2 separate regions of the Homo sapiens genome follow, and region 2 is linked to region 1. A link means that fine-mapping ties the variant in region 1 to the expression of a gene that starts in the linked region. Tissue or cell type: whole blood. Region 1 holds a variant in brackets; the other region holds the start of a gene. All regions are shown on one strand. Distances are from middle to middle.

Region 1 (8,108 bases):
CTAGCTCCAGAAACCTTTTCTGCAATTTTTGTCTCCCAGAAGCAGCCAAGCCTGGATGCCCATCTGCCTGCTACACCTGAAATCAACAGAAACCCTAGGTGAAAAGTAGCTGTAGATACCCAATGTCACCAGACCACATCTTCTAGAGTTTCCATCTCTCGCCCATTCTGTTTTCAGACTCCAGACTCCAGCAGGTCTGTGTTTCCTAGGCACTGTAAGGCTGTAGGAGATTTCAATGTGCCTTCTGGAAGTTTCTGGCCTCTCTCTTCAGCTCCCCTCCAACCTCAGATTTCACCAAATTTCTTATGGGGAAAATCAGTCATGCATTTGAGCACCCCACCACACCCCCCACCAAATCTCCAATTTGTCAGTCCATTATGACCAGAAAACCTTGGCTAGTATCTCTTTCAAAGCTAGTAGCAGTCCTCTGCCTCTGCTCACATCTCCAGAACTAGCACGCTTCCACAGAAAATAAAATAACTGGTCCTCCTTGGTGCAGCTCTGGATGAGCCTCCCATCTCTGGAACTTTAGTCCAACTGTCCCTCATTGCTTCCATAGCACTCTGAAGCCTTTAAGAATGCGACTTTTATGGCATACTCAGCTTTTCATACCTGTTAGCATCTCAAACTTGATACTATATTTTGCACTACTAATTACTTTCAATGAATTTCTAAATATTTGTAAGATATTAAGTAGTCTTAATATGTTCCAAAGTACAGTTTAAATATGCTTTTGAAAGAAAAGCATCAGTAAAACAGTTACTTCTTACCTCTTCATAAAACTTCACCTGAGGTACAGCTTCATTAATTTCATTCAAACAAAAATCTTTAAATAGCAAGAAACCTAAAGGAAAAAAATAAAAAATTTCAGGGTGGGCAATTAATTGAAATTTTATCCCACAAGGGTGTTTTCAAAGCAATGTGTTTATACCTCAACCTCTTCCTCCTCTACTTTTTTTTTTAAAAAAAAGATTTCAAGAAGCTAGTGAATTAATTAATTCCTAGAAGGAAATACTCCAGGCAGAAAAATACCACATACTTGGCTCCTTGCTTCAGGATTCCTTCTCTATTCATGTTCACCCCCGCCCCCCACTTTCCACAAAAGTATGATACGACAGGGCTGGCATTCACCACCACCACTTGGAGCCGCTGACCATTGTAGTGACCAAAATAACAACCAAAGGAATAAGAGATACAGACAGTATGTGTTGGTGAGAATCACCAAGACACTAATAAACACTATGCCCACTAAAATAGGACCAAACTCCCTAAAAAAAAAACAAACAAACAAAAAAAAAAACACCAGAACCCTTCTAGTCCTTTCTTCCCAAACCTTTCTAGTCCTTTCTCTTGCCACTCACTCACTATTTCCAAGTCCCTACCGAATACCTAGTGCCAGAGCAGATTACCCATTCCCAGGTCATGCTTTACTCCTTCACAACTACAAGCCTCACCTTTAAACACCTTTGCCTAGAATACCACGCCCCTCTCTGTACCTTGAAAACTCCTGAAATAACCAGAATTGGACTCAAAAGCCAACTGTGCTCTGAAGTCTTCTCTGATGAGACAGACCCTATTGCACAATGCCTGGTACACAGTAGGTGGCCAATAAATGTTCACTGAATGAATGTTTACTTAGCCTTTCCAACATTCTGTCAAAATATTTACCACACACTAATTAATTACCTGATTTATAAGGCTCCCATTCCATTTGAAAACCTAGTGCCTAGCTTAATGCCTAATGGTGACGCCTAGATAAACAAAATTAAATAGAACAAGCTGATACCAGACTGAAGGTAGAGATACTTGAAGATTATAAAATTCCAAAAAGTCAAAACAATTAAACGGAGAGTTCGCAGAAACAGAAGCTGCAGAAAGGAACTGAAGAAAGACTCACAAAGTCTACCATGTAGAGATGAAGTGGACCAGAATTCCCCAGGTGGGACTGAAAAAGGAAGTGGCTGTGATGAGATTTTAATTAACATTAGCATAAGGATCTTGTAACTTGAACTGGTCTGTAACTGATCCATAAATTCCCCTCATAGTTCCCGGAACGTGGCCTTTGAAAATGGTAAGTGTTCGTTCACTCAAACTAGAGTAGAATGACTAAGAGTACTAGTTAAATAGGCATAGCCAGACTTTACCAGGGTCAGGCGCACACCTGCAGCAGGAGCACAGCCACGCTCCTCCCATGGAGAAACTGCAACGACCCCAACATAGGCAGGAAGTAGGAAATTCAAGAAGCAGGCAAATGGGAAGGATACACATCTCTATCTGTTCGTATGTTAGTATTCTGATTTTAAGAGTAATCGTTGTCTCTTCATTTTTATTCATTTCAAAGGACTTTCTAATTTCCCTTGTCATTTCTTCTTTGATCCGTGAGTCCTTCAGAAGGGTGTAGTTTAATTTCAAAATATTTGGGGATTTTTCAGACACTGATTTTCTGTTTAGCTCTGTTGTGGTCAGAGAACATGCTTGGTATGATTTCAATGCTTTTAAATGCATTGAAACTTTTGGTCTATCTAACGGAATGCTGTATGGCACTTGAAGAAAGGGTGCATTCTGTTCTTATAGGGTGGAGTGTTTCATTTAAAAGAATACAAAGGCAATTAAACCAAGTGGGCTTGATAGAGTTCTTCAAGATGGTCCTCTGCAGCAACACAGATGGAACTGAAGGCCATTATCCTAAGTGAAGTCAGTCAGAAACAGAGACTCAAATACTGCACATTCTCATTTACAAGTGGGAGCTAAACAATGGGTACACATGGACATAGGGAGTAAAATAATAGACACTGGAAACTCCAAAAGGCAGGAGGATGGGAGAGGAGTAAGCCATGAAAAATCACAGATTGAGTACAATGTACACTAAAAGCCCAGAGTTCACCACTATGCAATGTATCTAGGTAACAAAATTGCACTTGTACCCCCTAAATCCATAGAAATAAAAGATCATCCTCTGAATCTTTACAGAATGTCTGTCTGTTTATTTATTTATTTATTTTTGAGATGGAGTCTTGCTCTGTCGCCCAGGCTGGAGTGCAATGGCGCGATCTTGGCTCACTGCAACCTCTGCCTCCCAGGTTCAAGCAATTCTCCTGCCTCAGCCTCCCGAGTAGCTAGGATTACAGGCACCCGCGATCATGGCCGGCTAATTTTTGCATTTTTAGTAGATACGGGGTTTCACCATGTTGGCCAGACTGGTCTCGATCTCCTGACCTCAGGTGATCCACCCGCCTTGCCCTCCCAAAGTGCTGGGATTACAGGCGTGAGCCACCGCGCGGCCATCTGTCTATTTATTCTATCCATCATCAACAGTGAAGTGTTGAACTCTCCATTTGTAATTGTAGATTTGTTCATCTTTTTTCAATGTTGTCAGTTTTTGCCACATGTATTTCTTTTTCTATTTCTGGAAGACAAAACTAACATGAGAATTTGAACTTAAGTATTTTGATCAAATTAGAGATGTTTTCAAAATGTCTAAATGACAAAATGAAATAATACCACACATGGACCACTGTCTTTTGACTACACTTGGAATCAAACTGAAACTCTTCACCATAGCCTACCCACGTCCTCTGGAGTCACCATTTCCTTCTCTGGCCTCATCTCACAGTGCTCCCCCCAAGCTCACTTCACTTAGGCCAAGCTTCTGTACTGTAGTTTCTCTGACACCAAGCTCATTCC[CT/T]TCTCAGGGTTTCTTACCGGCTATTCCCACTGCCTCACACACTTTTCCTGGATCTTCTAAATGAACAGCTCACTAGCTCACTTCACATATCCCTTTCCTTGAGGAGGCCTTTCATGATTCTCATTCATTCTCACTGTCCTGCTGTCTCTATCTCGCATCCATTCACACACACACACCACAAAACACTTTGTAGCACTTACGATGAGCAAAAATTGTCGCATGTTTATATTTGCTTCTTTACTGTCTACCTCTCCCACTACAATGTAAGCTGCAATGCATAGGGTACAGGTGTTTTATTCTCTACTACATTTGCACAAGAGCATTGACTGTAACAAAGACAGAGCTCAGGAGAGAGAACAAAGGAAGAAAGGTAGAAGAAAGAGCAAAGGTACAAGGAGAGGGAGGGAAGTCGGGGGAAAGGAGGAAGGAAGAGGACAGAAAGAGGAGGGATGAGGGAAAGAGGGAGTTGAATGAATGAACACCCAACTTAGAATGTGTTTACCTATTTATTTAAGGAAATCTCCATTGTCGGTCAGTAGAATAAGCCAAGGACTTAGTTCAACACACAATAGAAAACACAAAATATTATTTTCCTCCTATGTGCACATAAACTGAAGCTTTACTTTCTACCAGCTGTTTAAATGGAGCTGCTAAAATTGAGCAGCAGGAAGAAAGATATTTGCCTTTTGGCTAAATCCTAGATCACTGTGTCCTAGGCTGAACGCAACTTACCTTCATCAGCCTTAAATTATATAAAAAGCAAATGAAGCATGGCCTAGATTAGGGCAAAATATGAGAGGCAAAAATAAGGAAATATTTTGCCTAACAAGTTCACTTCATCGCTGCAATTTCTCCAGATCTTAAAGAGTAAAAAATGGTGACCTAACACCTGCTTAGTAGATATTTGTGAAATGTGTTTACTTTGTTGCTATATTTGAACCACTGCAAAATGCTGAATATTGATTAACTTTTTAGTGTATGTAACACCCGCCATCACGATAATTTTTCAAAAATTAGTAGAAAGAATTGTATTGCTTTTTATAAAATGTAAGTTAAGAACTTTTGAAAGTATTAAATATAAGTGGTTTCTATGAGAAAATTTGAAATTAAATCTCCTAAAAATTAGAAAGGTGAAAAGAGAAATATGAAAATTTTCTTGCAAGAAAAAATACTTGTCCTCAGTTTTGCCAAGGAGATTAAGACAGTAAGGAGAATAGACTGCATAACTGCTAAAACTTCCTCCCAATATTGACTAATTCTACAAAACATTTACTGAGTATCTACTAAGAGCCACTGTGTTATTCACTGAGGATGTGATTGTGAAAACAGTGTTTTTCCAATAAAGCGCTTACGGATTAGTGTAAGAGACAGACAACAAAGAAATACATATAATTTATGACAAGGAATATAAAGTAATTAAGTATGATGCTGAGATAATGATAAAAAGAGGAAGATGTATTTCAGACAGAATGGTCAGTAAGGCCTTTCTGAGCTGTGAGACAAACAAAATACAATGCATGTCAGATAAGAAAATGCTGCAATATGTAATCTCACTCCTCTTCAACATTGTATTGGAGGTCCTAGCCAATGCAATAAAGTAAGAAAATGAAATAACAGTTATTCAAATTGAAAAGGAAGAACTAAAACTGATTCTATTCAATCTGGTTACCTACCTGGCAAATCCTATCTATAAGTAACTACTAGAATATGTAAGTAAATTTAGCAAGGCCACAGGACATAAGGTCATTAGATAAAAACCAATGAAATTTCTATAAACTCATAGCACACAATTTTAAAATGGAATTTTAAAAACAAGTCAATTTGTAATAACAAAGAACTATCAATACATAGGAATAAACAAATAAATGACATACAAGAACAGTATGCTAAAAACTATAAAATGTTACTGAGAGAAATTAAAGAAGATCTAAATAAATGGAAATACATACTCAGTTCATGGACTGGAAGATTTAGTATTGCTTAGATGTTAATTCTTCCCAGAATAATTTGTAGATTCAGTGCAATTACAATCATAACTCCAACAGGCCTTTTTAAAGAAACTGACAAGCTGATTCGAAAATATATATGGAAATGCAAAAAACCTAGAATACCCAAAACATCTTAAGAAAGAAGAACAAAGTTCAAAGCCTTAACGCTATCCAATTTCAAGACTCATTACATAGCCATACTAATCTTAATCAATACATTAGATTGATTAATATGGCTATATAATGTAGTGGCATTAGATTAAATCACTGGAACAGAAATATAAGGTCCCAGAATATGCCCACATTTATATAGTCAATTTAAGTCTTTTCAACAAATGATGCTGGGAAAGCTGATATCCATATGGGGAAAAAGATGAAAGGAATTGTTACCTCACACCTTATAAAGAATTAAATTAAGGATTATCATAGAACTAAATGTGAAGGCTAAAATTATAATGCTTCTAGAATATATATAGAATATCTTCACAGAAAATCTTTATGCAAAAGATTTCTTAGGCAGGGTAAAGAAAGAAATGATAAATTATACTTTATCAAAATGTAGAACTTCTGTTCTTCAAAAGACAGTGTTAAAAAATAGACCAGCCATGGACTGGGGTAAAATATTATAAAACCTAAGTTAGAAAAAATGCCTTGTAAATTTGGATTCAAAGAAACAAACAAAGACAATTCTTACAAATCCATGTTAAAAGAAGAACAACTCAATAAAAGAACTCAAGGAAGATTTGAACACATCACAACACAGGAACACCTCACAAGAAAGGGATAGAAACAGCCAGTAAGCCCATGAAAGGGACTCAGCATCATTGGTCATCATGTAAATGTAAATTAAGCCACTCTAAGATATCCCTTCTCAACTACTAGAATGGCTAAGTTAAATATTGACAACCCCAACTGCCAGCAGGGATACAAGGCAGCCAGAACTCCAATGAGTTGCTGAGGAGGACGGACAATACCTTGGGTCCCCCATGCCTCTGAATCAGCAGGCAGAGAAGGGAGATCTTGTGTTGACTGGAGTAACTGATCCTGACTGCCAAGGGGATCCACACTAGAGAGATAAGGAAAAGCATGTCTGGAATACAGGAGATTTCCTAGGGTATCCCCCCACTATTACTATGGCCTGTGATTAAAGTCAAGGGAAAACTATAACCCAATTCAGGCAGGGCTATGAATGGCCCAGACCTTTTAGGAGTAATGATTCAAGTCATCCCACCAGGTACAGAACTATGACCGACTGAGGTGCTTGCTGATGGTAAAGGGAACACGTAATCCATGGGAGTAAGGAATACCAGCTACAACCATGTGACCAGTTACAGGAATGAGGACTGCAACTGTCATGAGTGTTTCCCCCTTATTGTGTGTGTGTATGTTAAGCAAATATCTTTGCTTTCTTCTCCACTTCTTGTCCCTTTATCATGTAACAGAAGACATACTGACTTCCTAGTGTAGCATTTAAATATTGTTAACTTTACATGATGGTATTTAAGTTGCAAGACATCGAAGAAAAGAGCAAACATCATCCAAGGACTTTGCATCCTTTTCTGGGAAAAGAGTCAATGCATCTTCCATTGTACGCAGACTAGTTGTATCATGTTAGGTGGAAGTATGACCTTGTTATCGCCTTTAGTGGAGATTAATCGTGGTGTAAGGAGATGTGTATGAGCACCAGGATGACAAGGGGTGGATGTGTGATGGTTAATTTCATCTTGGAGAGTGTCCTGGAATGAGATTAAAATTTAGATCAGTAAACTGCGAGTAAGCAGATTGCTCCCCATAACGTAGGTGGGCTGCATCCAATCAGCTGAAAGCCTGAACAGAACAAAAAGATCAGATGCCCCAGGGAAGGGAGAATTTCCCAGCAGACTGCCTCCAGACTTCATCTGCACCATCAGCTATCCTGGATCTCGAGCCTGCCAGCTCACACTGCAGATTTGGACTTGCCCGTCTCCATAATCACATAAGCCAGTTCCTTACAATAAGTCTCTTTCTGTCTATATACACATATCCTATTACTTTTCTATCACTGGAGAATGCTGCATTATATAGATTTGGAGCATGGTAAAGAATATACAGTCCCTTAGGAAAATAGCTTGAAAGTTTTTATAAAGTTACACCCACACTTACACAATGCAGTGATTCCTCTATTAGATACTTATCCAATGAAAACTTATATCTCCAAAAAGACTTGTATAGGGAATCTTCATGGCAGCTTTATTCATAACTTATCTGAAATGATTCAAAGACTATCAACAGGAAGATAAGTAGATTGTGATATTTTCACACAGTGGAATACTATTCAGCAATAAAACAAAACAAACTACTGATACATCCAGCATTGTACCTGTATTAGTCAGGGTTCTCCAGAGAAACATATAAGCAAGTAAGAGGAGACTTACAGGAATTGGCTCACATGATTA
Region 2 (8,108 bases), 77 kb after region 1:
ACTATGTTTAGATAGTTCTTCAAAGGTAATCACTAACAAATTATTGTAAAACACCAAACATCATGTGTTCTATGCATTATGCTATATTCTATATTCATTCTTTATTATTCTATATTCTATGCATATAGAGTAATAAAAGTCATCCAAACGCTATTTGTTTGTGGTTAAATAAAATCTTCAAGCAAATACACTTCAAAGCAAACATCCTTCTTGGCTCAAATCTTTGTATTTCACACTAGTCTATAAGCTCCATGAAGGAAGGGGCTGTGGCTGGGTTTGTCATAGTACCCCGTGCCTGGCTCATAGAAATGGCTCTACAACTATGTACTGAATTAATGTCATAAACGGTATCATAAATGTCCTTTAAGGACTGTCAGTGCTCCTAGAAAATTATAAAGAATCTTTAAAATGTTGTTTCAGACCTTCCTATCATATTGTATGAATACTTTGAAAGGACAAGCTTTGCAATAGGTGATCCAACATTTGAAATGTCCAGTAAATAGAAATAAGACTCCAGGGGAAAGATGAAGTTCACATTACTCAACCGCCTTCAACTATATGTGATTTCAAGTCATCTGAATTTCATTCTGTTTTTTTTAAAAAAAAAAGAGTAACAGAGTAATACAGCCTACAGTAAAAGTCGTCTGAATCACTCCAGGGCTTAAGATGATGACCCTTTGTGGGCCTTTGCTTGTGAATTAGACCTTACTTAAATAAAAGTATTTCTTTTCCAACATGATGTAAAACAACTGGCCTGCACATCTAAATGCTCCTGTTTTAACTGGGCCTGCAAGGGAGGCTGTGGGTCACAGTTTACTACTCCCAGTAGGCCCCATTATCAGCTACATTAGCTCAACAACATTTCAGTAAACTAAAGCAGCTATACCATTTGGACAAACAGTCAGCTTTTCCAGGATTTGCACTCATTGGTTGGTTAACTGAATAAAGTGTCAACATAACAAAATATTTGCCTCTTGCCATCTCAGGGAAGCAAAATCTCCCCTGGGCAGAATGTTCCATTTTCTGAGACTCTCCTGTAATAGGCAGGAAGCTGCAAACCCAGTGTTTCATTTAAATTAGCTAGATATTTCGTTCTGATGCTCTTCTGTTTAAAACTGTGGGAAAGGCAAAGTAACTAAAATAAGGAAGCACAAAGAATAGTGACTGCAAATAATTTGCTGGAAATAAAAAAATCACTAGTGATAGACCAAAGGCAAATTAAAATGTATGCTTCTCATTCAGATACCAAAAATACAAATCTGAACATCTCTTTCAAGAATACCAAAAACTGGTGATCACATGGCTTCCTCTATAATGAAGCTGAAATAGAAACTTATCAGAAAACATTTGACCCGTATCCCTTTTACCAATAGTGTGAAGTCATACCAGCTATTTAAGTCATTAGGCTGGGGCATTTTAACATGCAATTAACTTTTTTACAGGATCTAGAAATTCCCCAACCCCCAACCTCCAAATCAAATAGGTAGGCCACTAACTGCCATCCAGTGGTAGAGAGAATTTTGCAAGATGTTATACCTGATAATCTCAATGTAACAGAATCCTAACACAGCACAAGGAGTGACTGTTACTATGTAAATAGCTACATTACAAAACTAAAGCCAAAGCCACTAAGATAAGTAGAAAACAAATTAGAATCTCAGGAGGAGGTTCCAATGGCCCAATTCGAGAGTCTATTTTAAAAAGAGCAACAGAGTAACAATTACTGAAGGGCTGTTTCCTAAAATTACTCTCTGGTTGGTATTTCTCAATTTTCAAATGTCATGAGAAATAATGCTGGCTGTCACTTACTCTGCCTTAAAAGAAAGCATTACCAAAGAATACCACTGAAAAACAAAGGCATTCATACAAGGAAGTGAACACCCTAAGTGCATAAGTACGTTCTTAAGAGGGACACTAAAAAAGCAGAAGTCACATTAAGTTCCAAACACCAAGAAAAAAAAAACTGAACAGAAGTTCCTAACTTTATTAATATTATATACTAGCCCCCCCCAAAAAAAAAACTGCCCATGAGTTGAGATTTATCAATTTTGTATATAGAAATACTACATATTTAGGACTCCCTGCCTTTGGGTGGTGGAGGGACACTAGGAAAGGCAAGACAAAAGAGGAATTAAGCCTTTTTCTACCACATTAGAAATGTACAGTTTTTTTGGTGAAATTTAGGTTTGATGTAGGCGTTCTTGTTCTCTAAGTAAGTTTCCCATTTGCCGGAAATTTTAAGCAGCATTGATTTTTTTCAATTAGCTTCAGATATGCTACACTCTGGAATAGGGGTGTTAAACTCACGACATTGCAGAAAGGTTTGCACTTTTCCCTCATTTTCACTACTTGGCATTGTCTATCAAAGAGTAGCACATCCTGCAAAACCAACAAGAGGCATGGGCTAAGGAGGAAAAGCAAGCTCAAAATACCTAGCAAGCATGTCTTCATTTGCACAATTTAGCTTTTCACAACAAATAACAAGGGGACTGGTATTTTCTGTATCATAGGGCTCATGGATGACTTGTAAAAAAAATCAGATGATGATCACTTAGCATTAGGTAACATTTAAGCAATCTTGGGCGCCTAACGCTTGAAGGACTGATGATTTCAAATGGACAATAACTTTGGTTTAGATTCCAATATTTTACAGAATTGCATGGTTTCAAATTCACCATAAACAAGATGCCTCTTTTGAGCATCAATTCCAAGAGCTATTTAGCATCAAGGAATCACATTAGCTGTACAACTCATGATGGTGTTAATTAGGAAAGGAGCTAGAGAAAAAAAAATCCATCACTGAAGCCTTGATACGTTATTTAAAACTCACTATTAACCAGACAAACTATTTTTTCTGGGGAAGTGCTAATGATATGAACTAGAAAAAATTTTACTAGTACCTTAATAATAAATCATTTGAGAGAAAATTGCAACTTGGTATGCACCTCACCGAGCCCCTCGCCAATTCAATCGGGCCCTCCTTTGATAATTTAACAACAAATTCCTGTCTGGAATCACCCATTCAAGTGTCTTTTTAAGTGACTCCTGTTTCAATTTTTTAATAAAGTGCCACCAGTAGATCTACAAGTTGAGGAAAGCAGCTCAGGTGACACACTTGGCACCAAAAAGAATACTGAGTGGGTCAAAATCCTGCCCGGGGACAAAATAGAAGAGAAGCCGAAGAAGGTGACTAGACTTAATAGACTTCAAGAAGAGCAAGTACTGAAAACAGCAGTTTAACTACCTCGGACAATAAGCAACAAGCCTGCAGTCCCCAGGTAAGCGGCCCAGAGGGAGGTGAGAGGATGGAGTTGGAAAGGGGGACCAATGAGCCCGGGAAGAAGGAGCGACCAGGATGGAGCGCAAAGCAGTGACAGGCAAGGAGCCAACGGGGACTACACCAATGCAACAGGAAGAACCACGGGGATGGGACAGGGCAGGACAGGACAGGGCTGGGGGGAGGGGGCGACAGGGATGGAGCTGGTCCAGCCAAGTCATAACCAGACCCTGGCTGGGGCGCTCGCTGCGCGCAGGGCGCCGCGCCGGGCACTTTGGAGCGCTCTCTCCCGGGGTGCCCCCCACCGGCCCTCCGATGCCCCATTTCAGAGACTGGAACGACGAGGCCGGCCCCGCATCGCCCGCTCCGCTGTGTCACCCGCCCCGGGGCAGCGGAGGCTCAGCGCCCGACCCTCCAGGAAGCAGGGGGTAGCTGGCGGCCGCAGGGGGCGGCGGCTTGGGGCCGGCGCCGGCCGGGGCAGCTGGTACCTGGGCTCCGGCAGGACGATCCTCTTGCTGGCGCGGGCGGCCGGGGTCGCCTTGCTCTTCTCCATGGCCATCAGGTAACTGACATCGGCCAGCACAGCCTCCAGGTCCGCCATGTTGGCGAGCTTTGGCGGCGGCGGCGGCGGTTACTCCGGACCTGGACGGGACGCGCGCCCGCCGCCGCCGCCCGCCGCGCCCCGACCTGGGGGGGCCGCCCCGGGGCAGCCCCCCCCTCCGCGCGCCCCCGCCCCGCGCGCGCGCCGCGCGCCCCACTAGCGCTCTGCGCGCGCCGCAGGCTGTAGCCGGCCGGGGTCGCAGCACGCCTCCCCGCTCCGCCCCCTCGCGCGCCGCCCGGCGCCCCGCGCACGCGCGCCGCCCCCTGCTCCTTCAGCGAGGGTCTGCGGGGAGCGCGCGTCCAACGGTCAGCGCCCCTCAGTGCACAGTCCCAGCGGCCTCGCTGGGCCGGCGCCTCCCGACCAAGTCTCTACGGTCGCCCTCCCCTCGGGGTGGCCACGAGGGACTCCTCCTCCTCTTCCTCCTCCCCTCCCTCCCCCTCGGTCTCCGCCTCCTCCTTCTCCTCCTCCTTCACTGCCCCGACCTCCCGCCCCAGGTTCCACGCGCTCTGATGCCCGCCCCGCTCACCCAGAGAAGCCCTGGGCCAGACGTCCACAACCCAAGGGGTTATGGGGAGGCCTCTGCTCCCTGGACACAGTAGTTCTCAAACTGGACAGTGTCAATCAGCATCCTCCGGGAGGTCTGGGGTGGCCCCGGAAATACATGTGTCCCACCTATCCCAGCAGGTAATGATGAAACTCCTGCTCTGGTCCGGGCTACCGGTGAACAGCGCCCAGCGGGCCGGGCCCCCAACCTCGCTCCTGAGCCTGAACATCCCCCCAACCCCACCGTGAGAATTCAGCGAAGAGTAAAAGCTGGAAAAAGTTGCGTGTCTTAGGCTAAGCAGAACAAAGTGGGGTGACGGCTCCCCGGCTAGGAACAGAGATGCCCTTAGGGAGCCCTCTGATGGAAGAGCTCTCCGCTTAAGAAGGTCACCACTCCCTTACACTCAGGTGAGAGGTTTTAGTTTGGGTGTTGAAATGGTGTTGAGAAATAGAAGGAGAGAGAGTATTCCTGTCGTTAGGGTTTTACGGTCAATACAAGAGACAATTAGGGAGCATCTGCTGCGAGCACACTCGCACCACGAGGGTGATTTAGGGAAGTGGAAAAGCGAGATACAGCCCAAACACCGAAGCTGGGGGGAATTTCCAGCTTCCTGATCTTCGGTCTCGGTGTCTTTCATCATCACTCCACCCCGATGCCTGGGGTTTTCAGTTGCTTATTTTTCTACAGTGTGCACACAAGTCCGCATTCAGGATCCATGTGACACTCAGGCTGGAGTGGTGGTAAGGGACACGCAGGCAGTCTTAGGAAGACCTAAGCTGGAAATTAATGTTTTAAAATCCCTTTCATTCACCTGAATTGGTCACGTATTTCCATGAGCCTAGACGTTGCTAGAATTTGAGTGAACGTTCTGTCCATAACTTACAGGGTTAACGGGACCCACCAGATACAGTTAAGGTCAAATTTCAGATATTTCATGTAATGTCATTGCAGAAGCAGCCTGATTCTGTCATCAAATAGCCTGTTTCCCTCTTTTGTTTTCTCTCCCACGCCACAGCCCCCCTCAATCTGATTCCCTGCTATGCCTGCCATCACCACTGGCCAGTTTTACCACATGCTTCTCAAGACCCAAGGCACAATAGGCATAAAGTTGTCCTGAAAAGGACAAGAGGAGTGTCAGAAGTAGGAATGGCAGTTGAAGGAGCTTCGTCTGCCAGCAGAAAGCTGAAATGACAGGCAAGCACAAAATATATTAAGGAGACAAAGCTATGCATGAGCGAAATATCAAACTTTCATCTTCTACCCACTTTTTTTTTTTTTTTTTGCTTAAAAACAGGAAGACAGAATGTCTTGTCAAGGGTCACCCCAGGAGGAGGAGTAAATTCCCCAAAAAGCGGAACATATTTTTATGATTTAATTAATACAATTTCTCTCAATGTGTCTGTTTATCATTTGAGCATCCACATGATCAGACCTGACATCTGCCTACATTTTCTTGGTCGTCTTTGACTTCAGTTAAGAACCTTTTGCTCTTTGTTTTCCCCCAGCAGCACAGTATATTAAGTTTGGAACAAGACACACCTGAAATCAAATCCCTGCTCTGTGCTGGGTGATCTTAGAGGCAGTCTTTTACCTCTTTCTACTTTATTGTTCTCATAGGAAAAGTGGAAATGAGGCCTTTTACCCCAGGGTTGTTGAGAAGACAGAGGAGAAAAAGCACATAAAAATGCACCTTGTCGGGCGTGGGGCTCACACCTGTAATCCCAGCACTTTGGGAGGCTGAGGCAGGTGTATCGCTTGAGGCCAGGAGTTCAAGACCAGCCTGGCCAACAGGAAAAATACATTAAAAATAATGTCTCTATTAAAAATACAAAAATTAGCCAGGTATGGTGGTGCACGCCTGTAATCCCAGCTACTCAGGAGGCTGAGGCAGAAGAATCGCTTGAACCCAGGAAGCGAAAGCTGCAGTGAGTCGAGATCGCAGCACTGGGCAGGCACAGTGGCTCACACCTGTAATCCCAGTACTTTGGGAGGCTGAGGTGGGTGGATCACAAGGTCAGGAGATGGAGACCATCCTGGCTAACACGATGAAACTGTATCTCTACTAAAAATACAAAAACAAAATAAGCTGGGCGTGGTGGCGGGCGCCTGTAGTCCCAGCTACCTGGGAGGCTGAGGCAGGAGAATGGCAGGAACCCGGGAGGCAGAGCTTGCCGTCAGCCAAGATTGCACTGCTGCACTCCAGCCTGGGCAAGAGAGCAAGACCCTGTCTCAAAAAAAAAAAAAAAAAAAAAAAAAGCATTTTGCCTGGCACCCAGTAGATCCTCAATAAAGGTCATGGCACTTCCTCTATTTATTTTGCTTCATTTTACCCTGGCATGCTAGAGAAGATACTGAAACTAGTTGTTCACAGTCATTACACTTGAAGCAGGAAGACCCCTTACCAAAAATAACATCTCCCTAGGGCATTTCTAGGAACCAAAATGGCAAAAACATTTGCATCTATAAACATGAGCAATTACTCTTTTGGCAGAAAGACCAAGGAGTCCAAAATTTGGTCCTCTAACTGAGGCCCCTACACCATTTGAGTCAGCTGACTCAATTACCCAGGGGTATTTTTTTCTGGTGTTCATAGTGTATGAATTTCTGTTCCCTGGCTGTCTCTTTGGTTGTCTCACTTTCTCCACCCCCTCTTCTTTCCCTTTTTCTTGACTCTCTTGATACTGAACAGCTTTTTGTGTTCACTGCAAACAAAAGGGGTTAATGACAGTGATGATGAAGTTGTCATAACTGACCTGCTGGATCCTGTTACTAAACACCATCCCCAGCCTGTAATCATCACAAAGAACAGAAAAAACAAATAGCAACCCATTTGTACTTAGCTAATAATGCTCCCTTGCAAATAATTATGTCTCCCACCCCCAGAGGATTTAAATGACTTGGGGCTCACGCTGCTTGTGATAATAGACAAAACTCCAGCGTTCCCACAAGATTAATAATGTTCCCTTTTCTTCTTTTCTATGCCTTTCCATCGTTACAGGAGATGTTGCTGAGATGGGTGCATTAAAGTTTAGGCTTTCCAGAGTTTATATTGCTAACAACTTGAAAGGAAAAAAGCTAACTAGAGAACTGACTGGTCTTATTTGTTTTAGATTCTGGGCTTTACTAAGACTTCCTACTCTCAGAATCTCTGGACTATAAACGCTGGGTGGGGTGGGAGCTGGGAATGTTATTCTGGAAAATTAATCACAAATGAAAAGAAAATCAACTCTAAGACTCCAGTTAGAAGATTTTTGAAAATGGCAGAACATGACTGGCCTTCATTCAAGTCAGAATATTTAAAGCAATCCTTGCTAAGAAGAACTTGATTTTGTATAAGCAGTCCCTTAAATACAGTTGCTTCTCAAGAAAACCACACACAATTGATGTTTGAATGGCTTTATTTACAAACATCTCACTCCGTAAGCCTCTGCAGGTATTTCTAGCCTCCCAGGGGCCACTGTCCCGTTTCACCTGTAATTTGGATCACAATTCTGTTTGTTGTCACACACATCATATGAACTGCTTTTCATGCTGCTTTTATCCACAAAGCTTTACAAGCTTTAATGGCAGCTCTATGTATGACAACTTTATAAAGATCTGCCAAAAGGTATGATGCCAAGCTTTGCTTTTATTAAACTATTAGCTATTAGCACTGAAACGATGTTCAGTAGAGAAGTACTCTCCTT

Evidence for each region. PIP is the estimated chance that this variant, and not a neighbour inherited with it, causes the effect.
Region 2: it holds the start of GRK3, and the variant in region 1 is fine-mapped to the expression of GRK3 in whole blood (TOPMed, PIP above 0.99).

Annotation. Positions count from the first base shown.
Region 1 is chr22:25,637,328-25,645,435 of GRCh38, reverse strand. It overlaps GRK3 (G protein-coupled receptor kinase 3), which reads right to left. Exons shown (of 21, transcript NM_005160.4): 3 at 771-844. Among named protein-coding and RNA genes, the nearest start is that of GRK3-AS1, 76 kb to the right of the region's middle. The variant CT/T (reference allele first, on the strand shown) is at 3,685.
Region 2 is chr22:25,560,811-25,568,918 of GRCh38, reverse strand. It overlaps GRK3 (G protein-coupled receptor kinase 3), which reads right to left and starts at 4,244. Exons shown (of 21, transcript NM_005160.4): 1 at 3,766-4,244. The coding sequence starts at 3,878. GRK3-AS1 (GRK3 antisense RNA 1) reads left to right here and starts at 3,503. Exons shown (of 4, transcript NR_183564.1): 1 at 3,503-3,839; 2 at 4,560-4,829; 3 at 5,438-5,616; 4 at 7,421-8,031. RefSeq lists enhancers at 1,570-1,749, 3,032-3,547 and silencers at 3,659-3,908, 4,219-4,318.